Homo sapiens: one gene and its partners. The protein of the gene in region 2 purifies or fractionates together with the protein of the main gene of each other region. This does not show direct contact. Each region holds a gene or a part of one and is shown on either strand. Other genes may lie near its edges.

What was found.
Region 1: the proteins of CEP104 (region 2) and ARMC9 purify together in Homo sapiens (co-immunoprecipitation; one large-scale study listed by IntAct). This does not show direct contact.
Region 3: the proteins of CEP104 (region 2) and CCDC66 purify together in Homo sapiens (co-immunoprecipitation; one large-scale study listed by IntAct). This does not show direct contact.
Region 4: the proteins of CEP104 (region 2) and CSPP1 purify together in Homo sapiens (co-immunoprecipitation; one large-scale study listed by IntAct). This does not show direct contact.

Annotation. Positions count from the first base shown.
Region 1 is NC_000002.12:231,201,631-231,205,130, reverse strand, and holds part of ARMC9 (lisH domain-containing protein ARMC9), read right to left. Parts: intron 1-3,500. UniProt on the Homo sapiens protein: Involved in ciliogenesis. It is required for appropriate acetylation and polyglutamylation of ciliary microtubules, and regulation of cilium length. Acts as a positive regulator of hedgehog (Hh)signaling.
Region 2 is NC_000001.11:3,829,570-3,833,326, forward strand, and holds part of CEP104 (centrosomal protein of 104 kDa), read right to left. Parts: intron 1,654-3,757; coding exon 1,477-1,653; intron 429-1,476; coding exon 222-428; intron 1-221. UniProt on the Homo sapiens protein: Required for ciliogenesis and for structural integrity at the ciliary tip.
Region 3 is NC_000003.12:56,619,256-56,622,337, reverse strand, and holds the end of CCDC66 (coiled-coil domain-containing protein 66), read right to left. Parts: intron 3,068-3,082; coding exon 2,811-3,067; intron 2,562-2,810; coding exon 2,437-2,561; intron 2,207-2,436; exon of another isoform or gene 807-2,206; coding exon 720-806; 3' UTR 501-719; downstream 1-500. UniProt on the Homo sapiens protein: Microtubule-binding protein required for ciliogenesis. May function in ciliogenesis by mediating the transport of proteins like BBS4 to the cilium, but also through the organization of the centriolar satellites.
Region 4 is NC_000008.11:67,067,392-67,070,891, reverse strand, and holds part of CSPP1 (centrosome and spindle pole-associated protein 1), read right to left. Parts: intron 2,793-3,500; exon of another isoform or gene 2,088-2,792; coding exon of another isoform or gene 2,035-2,087; intron 1-2,034. UniProt on the Homo sapiens protein: May play a role in cell-cycle-dependent microtubule organization.

The DNA of each region.
Region 1 (3,500 bases), on a different chromosome or scaffold from region 2:
CTCCCAAAATGCTGGGATTATAGGCGTGAGCCACCACACTCAGTCAGATCTCTTCTGAGTCTGTAACCTTACATTTTTCTGCCACTGCCTCCCCACCTCCTTTCTCTCCACTTCAATCCAATTTCTACACTTTTAACAAGTGAGCATTCCCCTCCTGCTTGGGACCCTCCTGTGGTTCCAGCGCCCTCCAGATGAAGGCCAGGCTCCTTAGGCTCAACTCCCAAAGCCCTAGACAACTTGGCCTCTGACACACTCCCATTTGTTCTGTAAACCTGAGCCACACTGGCCACTGTGTGGTTCCTGTGGACACCCACTGAACACCCAAAGCACACGCCTGCCCTCGTGAACTCTGGCTCACTGCCCTTCCTTCAGATACGTCTCATTCAGGTCTCTGCCTAACTGTCACCTCCTCAGAGAGTCTTGCCCTGACCACCCTTTCTAAGAGGTCGGCCCATCACTTCTCAGCCCTTTGTACTGCTTGATTTTTCTCAACAGCACCTGACAGGTGTTCCCCTGTGCCTAGACCAGTGCCTGGCACACAGTACAGGCTCAAAAACATGGACGGAGTGGAAATTGATTCCAGACATGAAGAAAACAGCGCAAGGAAAGGGACAGAACCTGAAGGAGACGGGTATGGGGTTATTTTAGATAGAGTGGTTGATGGCCTCACTGGGAATGTGACATTTCAGCAAAGATTGAGCACCTGGATCTGGGGAAGATGGCTTTGTTAGTGCACAGGCCTCAGGCTGAAGAGCTCTGCAGTCTTGGGGTATTGGGATGTAGCTAGGGGTGAGGCAGACAGCAGCAGGCAATGGGGGGCCGGGGCCAGGTCAGGTGGGCCTTACAGAGCTGGTAAGTGGCTTGGACATTAGGCTGACAGTAACAGGAGGCTCAGAGAGAGTATGGAGGAGGGGACTGACACCACTGATGTCCTTTTTTTTTTTTTTTTTTTTTCCTGAGACAGAGTTTCCCTCTGTTGCCCAGGCTAGAGTGCAGTGACATGATCATAGCTCACTGCAGCCTCAAACTCCTGGACTCAAGCAGTCCTCCCACCTCAGCCTCCTGAGTAGCTGGGCCTACAGAGTGTGCCACTATGCCCCAAGTCTTTTGTTTTCTGGTTTTTTCATTTGTTTGGTTTTTGGTGAGGTTTTTTTTTGTTTGTTTGTTTTTGAGACAGAGTCTCGCTGTTGTTGCTTGGGCTGGAGTAGAATGGCACAATCTTGGCTCACTGCAACCTCCACCTCCGGGGTTCCAGCAATTCTCCTGCTTCAGCCTCCCGAGTAGCTGGGATTACAGGCACCCGCCACCATGCCTAGCTAATTTTTGTATTTTTAGTAGAGACGGGGTTTTACCACGTTGGCCAGGCTGGTCTCGAACTCCTGACCTCAGGTGATCCACCTGCCTCGGCCTCCCAAAGTGCTGGGATTACAGGCATGAGCCACCACGCCCAGCCTTGGTTTTTTCAGAGACAGGATTTCACCATTGCTCAGGCTGGTCTTGAACTCCTGGGCTCAATCCTCCCTCCTCTGCCTCCCAAAGTGCTGGGATTACAGGGGTGAGCCACCACGCCCGGCTGCTGATGTCCATTTTTTAATATGCATGTTGCCTGCTCTACAGAGAAGACTGGAGGGGAGTGGGAAGAGGGAGATGAGTACTGCTCAGGCCACGCCAGCCATGAGCATCATTTGGATAAGCAAGAGGGGCCATGAGCGCTGTGAGTCCAGATGGAAAAGGCAGAAGAGGCACAATCTGCAGACCAGTTAGTTGTGGGACATGAGGGGAAGAAGGGAAGGAAGAACCCTGGGATCTGAGCAGCTGGCCGAAGAGTATGTGATTTGCTGAGTCAACGAAAACCTGGGGAAGGACTGTTTTGAGGTCAAACCAAGAGCTCTGTTTTGGCTATAAGTCTGAGCTGCCTGTTAGACATTCCAGTGGAGGTTCCGAAATGGTCAGTGGGTATTGTAAGAACCAAAGAAAGAGGAGAGAGGAGAGAAACACGAAGGGTGGCTCGACAGTCAACAGGTTTATTTCAAACCTGGGAGGGACTTCCGACCGAGTTAGGTCAGAGCCACACTCTCCTACAGACTAAGAGTTTTTAAGGATTCAGGGTGGGAGAGTTTATCAAAGGCTTGAACTGTTTCTGTGTCTCTCTGTTGTGCTTATCTGGGAGGGAGAGTTGTGTGTCTGTTCCTATACAACTTTCTGCAGCTGCAGGCATACCCCCCAAGTCTGCTTTTAGCTTCCCTTAGTGCACCTGAAGGGAACAGAATGTCCTTATTAAGGCCCACTGTTATACTGAGGCCCATTGTAAGAGGGTGAAGTTTGGCCGTTACCCAGGAAACAAACCTGTTGACTGTCAAGTCACCCTTCGTGTTTCTCTCCTCTTTCTTTAATTCTTACAGATATATGAGCCTGGAGTTTAAGGGAGAAGCAGGAACGGCATTCAGAGGGATAGCAGAGAATATGGGTGCTGAGCAAAGACACAGATTTAGTGATTAGAAGTGAAACAGGCTGGGTGCAGTGGCTCACACCTGTAATCTTGGCACTTTGGGACACCAAGGCAGGCAGATCACTTGAGCTCATGAGTTCGAGACCAGCCTGGGCAACGTGGTGAAACCTCATCTCTACAGAAATACAAAAATTAGCTGGGTGTGGTGGTGTGTGCCTGTAATCCCAGCTACTGGGGAGGATGAGACAGGAGGATCACTTGAACCAGGAAGGTCAAGGCTGTAGTGAGCCGGGATCACGCCATGGCACTCCAGCCTAGGTGACAAAGTAAGACCCTGTCTCAAAAAAAAAAAAAAAAAAAAAGTGAAACAAGAAACAAGATCAGCTGGGCACGGTGGCTCACGCCTGTAATCCCAGCACTTTGGGAGGCCAAGGCAGGCAGATCGCCTGATGCTGGGAGTTCAAGACCAGCCTGACCAGCATGGTAAAACCCCATCTCTACTAAAAATACAAAAATTAGCCGGGTGTGGTGGCAGGCACCTGTAATCCCAGCTACTCTGGAAGCTGAGGCAGGAGAATCGCTTGAACCCAGGAAGTGGAGGTTGCAATGAGCCGAGATCGTGCCATTGCACTCCATCCTGGGCAACAGAGTGAGACTCTGTCAAAAAAAAAAAAAAAAGAAAGAAAGAAAAAAGGTCATCGGCTGCAAGTAAGAAGCATGGTGACAGTTCGAAGAGAAGGGAGAGTGGGAACGGAAGGGAGGGTGGGAACCAAAGCGACTACAGCAACATGGCAGGGTTGCTGGTATTATAGTCCATTTAAGATCTCTGCACTTGAATCTAAAATGGAATCAGTCTGCACAGTTTTGCAGCTCTTCTCCAGGCACTTTCAGCTATCTGAGTTAGGTTAACCAATGTGAGAGGTTCTTCTAGAAGAGAGAGGAAAGGGAAAACAGTACAACCACGATGGGACACTGGAACTAATCAGGTTAAGAATGGGGGAGGGGAACACACATAAGGCGGCTGCAGAGCAGTGAGGAAGCAGTGGGGTCT
Region 2 (3,757 bases):
TCGTTATTCCGTTTGCAGCCTGGGAACCTAAGGGTCTCACTGGCAGAAAGTGGAGCAGCCGGGATCTGAATGCGGGAACCTGTGTTCTTTCTTAGCCAGGACGCCGGGGCTTCCCATACATGTGGCTCCTTCAAATGACATATTTACTTATTTACGTACCGAGTAACTGAGTAACTTCTTCAACACAGGATGACATCACAACTTCACCAAAGTTAACTCACCCTCATCTCAGCATCTGTAGCTCTGCCATCTATTTTAGCAAATCCCTCAAAAATTGTTTTGTAGAGAATGTTCCTGCGTGTGTTGCTGTCGTCTGGAGGAAGGTACTCCAGGATGGAAGCCTGGTGCTGTCTGTACATGTCCAAAATAATTCGAACCGCCGTCTCGCGGACCTCATACACTCTATGCTCCAGGGCACTCACTGAAAACTAAAGTTGGGAGGGGCTCTTGTTACTCATTCTTAAAATAAAACTAATTTCTTCCAGCTTACAAAAAAGGTACATTATAAACATGTGAAAAATAAAAGAGAAAACATCCGTATTAAGTATTATGAAATACTTCAAACATAAAACCTCACGGATCTACCGTCTCATCGTAAGCCGTGTTATACTTTCATCACGCTTGTTTTGGATCTTTTTTAAGAAACAGAACGCTGTGGCTATAGTGCAATTTCATCCCTGCTGTGCGTCTCGGGGGCCCACAGTTTCTCATCCTCCTTGGAGGTGTGCGCTCCTGCGTAGCCGATGTGCAGATTTCAGGTTTTTGGATTTGGGATCCAAACCAGTAAGTATAATGGAAGTATTCCAGAATCCGAAAACAATCTGAAATCCTAAACACTTCTGGTCTTAAGCATTCCAGATAAGGGGCTTCAACCTGTACCTGATATTCTCCATCACACTGCTGTTATTGTCTCTTAAAGACAGGCCGGGCGCAGTGGCTCACGCCTGTAATCCCAGCACTTTGGGAGGCTGAGGCGGGCGGATCACGAGGTCAGGAGATCGAGACCATCCTGGCTAACACAGTGAAACCCCGTCTCTACTAAAATACACGAAAAAATTAGCCGGGCATGGTGGTGGGCATCCTGTAGTACCAGCTACTTGGGAGGCTGAGGCAGGAGAATGGCATGAACCCAGGAGGCAGGGCTTGCAGTGAGCCGAGATGGCACCACTGCACCTCCAGCCTGGGCGACAGAACGAGACTCCATCTCAAAAAAAAAAAAAAAAAAAGACAAAGAAATATTTTTTATGATTTGTTTCTCTCCACAGATAAAGATCTGCACACACCATGCACCACCGAGTAGGATTAGACAGCAGGACGCATGTGGGGGCCCCCATTTGTTGGATGAAACACTGGCTATTTTTCTGAAATCACTGCCTCAGTCATTCCTTCAACAAATGCCGATGAGACCCTCGCCACGCTCCAGGCACTGTGGTGAGTGCTGGGCCGCGTGGTGTGTCACACGCGAGGTCTGCTTACCTTCATCACGTTGTCAATGGTGAAGCCCGAGCTGCCAGTGCCCAGGTCTTTCAGCAGCCGGGCCAGGAGGCCCATCTGACTCATTGCCAGGTGAACTGAAGAGTTTGCTTTCAATGGCTGCACCAGGTAGGATGGAATAATTTGGAGAGACTTAACTTCTTTAAACAAGGCCATTTCCTATGAAAGCCAAGGTAATTTGTTAATTTTTACTGGAAAATGCTGGAGGCAGTTTAGTACAATTCAGCATGATCTTAAACTAAACACTGAAGGGAAAAACAGGGAAATACAGATTGATAGTGACAAGGAGCAATGAGAGCACTGATCCGTAAGCTTGTATTTCTATTTAAAGCGTAACAACCATTAGAAATGAAAATCTGAGCCACAGGAAATAAAATCATGAAGAATAAAACGATTTTATGTCTACTGAAAGCTTTTCAGAAGCGTAATTGAAAACTTGAAGGTTTCTGTTCTCAGTATTCTCAGCTTCAAGGAAAAGGTTTTCTCATTTCTAAAATTCTAAAAGAAATTAGAGCTGCTGCTAGAATCACCGTTATTTTAGTATTTATTAAATGTCAGCCAAGAGTGTATGATTCTGCAGTGATACGGTCACCAGTGGGTTAAGATGGAAAAAATGTAAGTACCATTACATATTTGAATGTCTCTAAACAAACAAGTCTTTACGTAATTAAGATATTTATCACTTAATTAACCGGATATAGAGAAAAAAATAAGATGTTGAATCATTAAGTTACAATCAGAAATAAACCTGTTTCCAATAGGTCTGCAGGTCTTATCACCTAAAATAATCTCTTATCGTGCTGGCCTGACTCACTCTGGATTTGGGCCTGTGAGTGACTCTGTACAAATCTAAAAGCTAAGAGAAGAAGAGCATTCTCCAGGGAAGTTTGGACAGTAAACTCCTTAACTACAAACAGATGCTGTTGAGTGTGTATTTCGTCCACTAACCGGCACACTGGTGCACAATTGTAACCCTCGATAGATTGCCTTAAGGTTGTCTCACATAGAGAGAACATTTGAGCACCACCAAACTGCTCAGAAATTAATGTGGCTTAAAAATAATTAAATGAAGCAATAACATGTGCTCATTTGCAACATATCTTTTGAAAGATGAACCCTCCTCACCCCCAAATTCTAGCTGTCATAACCAGGAGTGTATTGTAGCACATTAGGTCGTAACCAGGAGTGTATTGTAACCAGGAGTGTATTGTAACCAGGAGTGTATTGTAACCAGGAGTGTATTGTAGGTCGTAACCAGGAGTGTAGTGTAGGTCGTAACCAGGAGTGTAGTGTAGCACATTAGGTCGTAACCAGGAGTGTAGCGTAGGTCGTGACCAGGAGTGTAGCGTAGGTCCTGACCAGGAGTGTAGCGTAGGTCGTGACCAGGAGTGTAGCGTAGGTCGTGACCAGGAGTGTAGCGTAGGTCGTGACCAGGAGTGTAGTGTAGGTCGTGACCAGGAGTGTAGTGTAGGTCATAACCAGGAGTGTAGTGTAGCACATTAGCATGACAGCATTTCTTCTTACCTTTTTATTAGCATTCCTTTTCCTTATTTACTCTGAAAATTTAGGTTTATTAAATGAAACTAGATCTGTGGTTCCTCATATTTTGGAGAAATGACCCCTTTGGATTCTTCTTTTTGAGACACTGTCTTTCTCTGTCACCCAGGCTAGAGTACAGTGGCGAGATCACGGCTCACTGCAGCCTCAACCACCTGGGCTCAAGCCTCTCGCCTCGGCCTTCCAAGTAGCTGGGACTACAGGGGTGTATCAGCATGCCCGGCTAATTTTTGTATTTTTTGCAGAGATAGAGTCTCACTATGTTGGCCAGGCTGGTCTCAAACTCCTGGGCCCAAATGATCTGCCTGCCTTGGTCTCCCAAAGTGCTGGGATTATGGGCGTGAGCCACCCCGCCTGGCCTGGATTCTTTTTTTTTTTTTTTTAAGATGGAGTCTCACTCTGTTGCCAGGCTGGAGTGCAGTGGCGTGATCTCGGCTCACTGAAAACTCTGCCTCCCGGGTTCGATTCTCCTGCCTCAGCCTCCCAAGTAGCTGGGACGACAGGCACGCACCACCACACCCGGCTAATTTTTGGATTTTTAGTACAGAAGGGGTTTCACCAGGTTGGCTAGGATAGTCTCGATCTCCTAACCTTGTGATCCACCTGCCTGAGCCTCCCAAAGTGCTGGGATTACAGGTGTGAGCCACCGTGCCCAGTCTGGCCTGGATTCTTTTTTAAGAAGGATCTGCACATCACAAAATTTTGT
Region 3 (3,082 bases), on a different chromosome or scaffold from region 2:
TTTTAGCAAAATGGAAGTATAATGGGAATATATTTTTGAGGTGGTCTTAGTAGTAATTACCATTTGTTGAACACATTAATGCTATACTAGACAGATACAGTGGAGATAGCTTTCAAACCCGTATCTATTCCTAACTACTGCCTCTAATACTAATTACTAACTTGTTACTAATGCTAACTTTTAAAAATGTTTTTGAAAATTGCAATTTCTACAAATAAATGTCATAGTGCAAATAAATGTCAGGATTTAGAGAAGGAGCCTAAACTGAATTTGTGTTATTTCAGTAAAAGTTATGGAGTTATGGGTCTAGACGTGTTAATAAGTTAGACAGAACTTTGGCACTTTAGAACAAATGCATGAGTGGTATTTCAGTTCCTAAGTTACATAAAAAGTGTGAAAGAACACTGTGAGGTCCCAGCAACGCCAGACTATATTAAGGTAAGTAGAAAGTGTTTTTATAGGGCTTCAATACCCAGGTGGTGACAGAGCAGAAGAACCGGTTTTTTTTTTTTTTTTTTTACTACTAAGCTTTTACAAAAGAAGTATCTGTTTTATTGTATAGAACAAGTACAGCATTTTACTACATAGTATACAAGTTTTTAATGAGCATTTAAAAAAATAAGTAAATCTAGGCTATTTGAAAAATACAGTTGAGCCAGTGAGCACATTTTATAATTTGGAAGACACAAATCAAATGTGAAGGATTTGATTTTCTACATTTAAAATGAAGAACCAAAACTCTCTTCTTGATTTTCAGCTAAAGGCAGGAGACTACTTTCCAACTCCTTTTGCTTCTGGAGAAGGCCCTGAAATCACATTGATATATGTTTGTTAGTAAAATGTGCACACCTGACTTGCAATGTTGTGTTAAACTAGAATTATATTCACTTGGAAAACATATCGCTTAGGATAAAATTTTGTCATTCAAAAATTTTTTCAGAAATGCTTGTACTAGACCACCTCATTTGGATATATAGCTATCACATTTGTAAGATTCTGTTTTTAGCATAAAAATCAATAGGGATGAAAATTTTCTTAGAACTCAAGACTCCATAACTATGGGGGTAAATGAAGTCATCCCTTCTCCCCCAGTCCACCCCCAAGTGCTCTTAGATACTGAAGGAGTCTCCCTTAACATACAGTGTTTTTTTTTTGTTGTTGTTGTTTTGTTTTTTTTTGGAGATGGAGTCTCGCTCTGTCGCCCAAGCTGGAGTACAGTGGTGCAATCTCACTGCAAGCTCTGCCTCCCAGGTTCACACCATTCTCCTGCCTCAACCTCCCGAATGGCTGGGACTACAGGCACCCACCACCACGCCTGGCTAACTAACTAACTAACTTTTTGTATTTTTAGTAGAGACAGGGTTTCACTGTGTTAGCCAGGATGGTCTTGATCTCCTGACCTCATGATCTGCCTGCCTCAGCCTCCCAAAGTGCTGGGATTACAGGCTTGAGCCACTGCTCCTGGCCAACATCCAGTATTTTATCTTGACTGTCCTAACCTTACCTTAGATGCTAACAGAAGGGTCCTGCTGAAATAACACTGGGTGCTATATTGATGGGTAAATGTGTACATCCTATTCCTTCCTCTTTATCTCACAATTTTTGTCTCCACTAAGCAAGAAGTAAACTAACACTTCGTCACTCTAAAGAAATAACTTATGTAAAACTCTTAGTAACCCTGTTTGTCTTCAAATGAGTAAATAGACCAAAGTGGGGGGACAATTTTCTAGTTCTGTAGAGGGAAAAACATCTGAGTCAACATTTTGAAATGCAGAGGGTATTGGTACATGACGACATGGAAAAGGGCACTTTTAAACACAGCTTACTCTTCCTCAAGTACAGAGAGTATATAGTGAATCAAAACTAACTACAGCCATTCTTTTTAAAGCCCAAGGGATGGAGCAAAGGTGTAAGGATGTTACCTGTTTGTTTTAATCAGAGAGCAAAAAGAAGTCACAATAGTTTGGGAGAAAAAGTAGTATGGTGAGTAAGGTTATGCGTATAATTTCATACTGAATTTATTACTATTTGGGATGTACGTCAATGTTCTAACAAACACTGCCAACACGTCAATTTTTTAAAAAGCGTGGGCCACATTGCTAAGAATTTGTTAAAGCATAACTGTATTTTTTGTTTTAGGGCCTTATTGATGTTTTGCCGTTCCAATGTATGCATTTTTTTACTCAATAAACTTGTCTTAATTTTAGAACTGTCTGATGATTTCGTACTGGAAAGAACTACTCAAAGACGGCAGTGTAAAAGCAAGTCTTAGGAAAGTCCCATTTTATTTGTGTCTAACAAACATACAGGAACTGAAATATTTTTGTTAAATCCTGGGATGCACCGAAGTAACTTAAAACAAACCGTTCAACAGGTTCCCCCAACCGCCCACGCCACATAAAGAACAGACATATCTACACTTGAAAAAGCTCATACCTGTCTCAGTTCTGAAAGTCCCTTAAGGATTGCTTGCTGTCGATCCCTATTTTTCACCATGTTAGGATTAAGAAGTGGATCCCTGACACAGTCAGAATCAAATAGCTGTCGTTTTTGGCCACAGTCTAAAGCCAGATGAAAGTAACAAGTCAGTCAATTACATTAGTAAAATGACATAGCCCTGTGCTATATAATATTGTCAGGAGTCATTATAATAAGTATGTATCCTAGGAAAGTACTAAGAAAAATTTAAGACATATTCAAGAAACTTTATAGAACTAAGTGCAGGAATTACTAATTTGGAATTTAAAGTTGTTGACGGGGTTTACATGGGTCTTCAATTTTTACAGTTAGAATGCTTAATATTTACTTACCTTGTGAATTTTGGTACTGAGGGTCCTGGGTTGAAGGCCCAGACAATGGTGCATCGGGATCAAGGTAATAGATCTCATTTGTTCGAACATACGGAATAAAATGGGATGATTCAGAAATCCCAGATGATAATTCTGTTTGATTACTTCCTGAGATCAAATTCTCTCTCTCATAGCTACTGTTTTTTAGTGGTAAATGTAATGTATTTTGAGTTTGTTGGGTTCTGTTTTTCACTACTGGAACTGGTGATGATGGAGACCTATTTAAAAAAAAA
Region 4 (3,500 bases), on a different chromosome or scaffold from region 2:
GTCCCAGCTATTGGGGAAGCTGAGGCAGGAGGATTGGATCACTTGAGCCCAGGAGATCAAGGCTACAGTGAGCTTATGAGCATGCCACTGTACTCCAGCCTGGGCAACAGAGCAAGACCCCATCTCAAAAAAAAACACTAAAAATAGAAATATATATATATATATATATTTACATATATAGTTTTAGCAAAATATACTTCAAATCAACAAAAGTTGATAAATTCTGGCCAATTTCTTTTGTTGTTTTTTGTTTTTTAGAGATGAGGTCTCGCTCTGCTGCCCAGGCTAGTGTGCAGTGGCACGATCATAGTTCATTGTAACTTTGAACTGCTAAGCTCAAGTGATCCTCCATGTTGGCCACCAGAATCACTGGGATTATAACTGCCAGCAACCACACTCAGCTTATTTCAGCTTTTTTTTTTTTTTTTTGAGATGGAGTCTCGCTCTGTCACCTAGGCTGGAGTGCAGTGGCGCGATCTCGGCTCACTGCAAGCTCCACCTCCCGGGGTCATGCCATTCTCCTGCCTCAGCCTCCCGAGTAGCTGAGATTACAGGTGCCCACCACCATGCCCAGCTAATTTTTTTGTATTATTAGTAGAGACAGGGTTTCACTGTGTTAGCCAGGATGGTCTCAATCTCCTGACCTCGTGATCCGCCTGCCTCGGCCTCCCAAAGTGCTGGGATTACAGGTGTGAGCCACCGTCCCGACTTATTTCAGCCATTTTTAATTTGCTAATAGTCACGAAAGATTTTTCCTAGTAAAAATTCTGAACTCAACAGCAAACAAGTTTTCATGTTTAAAACAATCAATCCTCAAAATCCTCTAATCTTCCCTAAATATTCTATGTCTGATAGGAATAAAATGATGAGATAACGCATATATTTTGCTATAGAATTTTGCACAGAATTTAAACAGAAATGTCATTTATCTAGGTTGGGGGCGGTGGCTCACGCCTGTAATCCCAGCACTTTGGGAGTGTGAGGCAGGTGGATCACCTGAGGTCAGGAGTTCGAGACCAGCCTGGCCAATATGGCGAAACCCCGTCTCTACTAAAAATACAAAAATTAGCCAGGCATGGTGGTATATACCTGTAATCCCAACTACCGGGGGACACTGAGGCAGGAGAATCGCTTGAACCAGGCAGGTGGAAGTTGCAGTGAGCCGAGATCATGCCACTGCACTCCAGTCTGGGCAACAGAGTGAGACTCCATCTCAAAAAAAAAAAAAAGAAAGAAAAGAAAAAAAAGAAATGTCATTTATCTAAAAAGAAAAAAAAAACAGTAACATGCCACCTTCACATGGAACTAAGGTTTCCATACCACCTAATAACAATTATTAATTTAACATGTTCATTTACATGTTGTTCTAACCAGGCTTTGAAAGATCTCCCTCTTGAATTTATAGATGCTTATCTTTCTCTTTACTGTAATTATTTAACATTATAAATTATAGAACTGATTTTAACTTACAGTAATCAAAAGTACAAAAAGTACAAATAAAACATACTTTTAAACAACCATAGTAAATATAGCATATGCCATAACTAAAACATAAGATTTATCCGAGATATAAGTACATTTCTAATCATTTCTAAATTTTTCCTGTATCTAATCTGATTAGATTATAATGACTTTAATATTAAAGAGTCAAAGACACTAATGAGCTTTCTCCTGGTAATGATCTCCAGCCAAAGAACACCAGGAAAACTACCACAGTTAAGTTGGATGTACTACTCATTGCATTAAGGAATGCACGGAGAACACACACCATGGGGAACCCTGTGGTATCGTGGTAAGAGGGTATTGGAAAAGACTTATATGTGTTGGGTGATTTGGGGGAAGGCTTAATTTGAGGAAGTGGAGCTTTGCTCAGGATTGAACACTGTTAGAAGTGGGGTTAATTCTATGATGGTACCACTCAATAAATCTAAAATATAGGGGGAGGCTAATGCTGTAACTGGTAAACAAGCAGTAGTCATTCACATCAGCTGGGAAAGGGAATGTTTGGTATCTCGGTTCTTGGACAATATTTACGTTTTGTCTGTGTTTGGAGACACTGATGGAATGTTTTTGTCTTGATCCATCATAGACACAGAGCGGCCTTATCTGATGTTGACATTCTGTACAATAGTTTATCTTCAACAGAAAAACACAAAGTTACTGTGAATGCCAGGCTAGTTTCTAGCAATACCAGTTTCTAGATATCACGGCCACTTTTCTTTTTCTCACTCCTAAAAGCATGTGGTAACTTACAGAAAACATATTTCAACTACACAATTATTCAAGAATTACTTGGTGAATCACAGAGACTGGGTTAATAAATATGGCATAGGTACAATATAGAGTAAGAAAGTTTATAATTTAAGGATTAAGTTGCCAAAAATAAATCAGCTGAAAGAAACCTAAATGAGATTATTTATATATGACACTCTACAATATAAAGTCACTCACAACTTTTTTCAAGACATCATGGCCAAGTATTATTTCTCCAGTAGCTGTGTACATAGTATGTAGATGATAAACAGTTTTCAGGAAAATAGTTTAATTGAAAGAACTGAGTTTGAAATATACTTCTATCACTTATTGATCTCAACATGAATGACCTCAAGCATGTTCCTTAACTGCTCTATGCCTAATCTATAAAACAGAAATATCATTTATTCTAGTATATTATGAAGAAAAAAGAAAATAATGCATATAAAAATTATGACAGAGAACCTAACACTTAGAAATCAACAGATCAGGCCAGGCGCAGTGGCCCATGCCTGTAATCCCAGCACTGTGGGAAGCCAAGGAGAGTGGATCACCTGAGGTTAGGAGTTTGAGACCAGTCTGGCTAACACAGCAAAACCCATCTCCACTAAAAATACAAAAATTAGCCAGGCATGGTGGCACACCTCTGTAGTCCCAGCTACTCAGGAGGCTGAGGCAGGAGAATTGCTTGAACCCAGGAAGCAGAGGCTGTAGTGAGCCCAGATCACGCCACTGTACTACAGCCTCGATGACAGAGCAATACTCTGTCAAAAAAAAAAAAAAAAGAAATCAACAGATCAATTCTTTTATTGTTTATGGTTGTATCTTTACAGTCTTTGCATATATGAAGATTTACCTCTTAAAAACAGAGCCTGCAGCCGCGCGTTGTGGCTCACACCTGTAATCCCAACACTTTGGGAGGCCGAGGCGGGCGGATCACGAGGTCAGGAGATCAAGACCATCCTGGCTAACACGGTGAAACCCCGTCTCTACTAAAAGTACAAAAAATTAGCCAGGCTTGGTGGCAGGCGCCTGTAGTTCCAGCTACTCAGAAGGCTGAGGCAGGAGAATGGAGTGAACCTGGGAGGCAGAGCTTGCAGTGAGCTGAGATCGTGCCACTGCACTCCAGCCTAGGTGACAGAGCGAGACTCTTGTCTCAAAAACCAAAACAAACAAACAAACAAACAAAAAAAACAGAGCCTGCAAACGTAAAGTATGCTGAGATTTAAATAATCAATAATTGATAC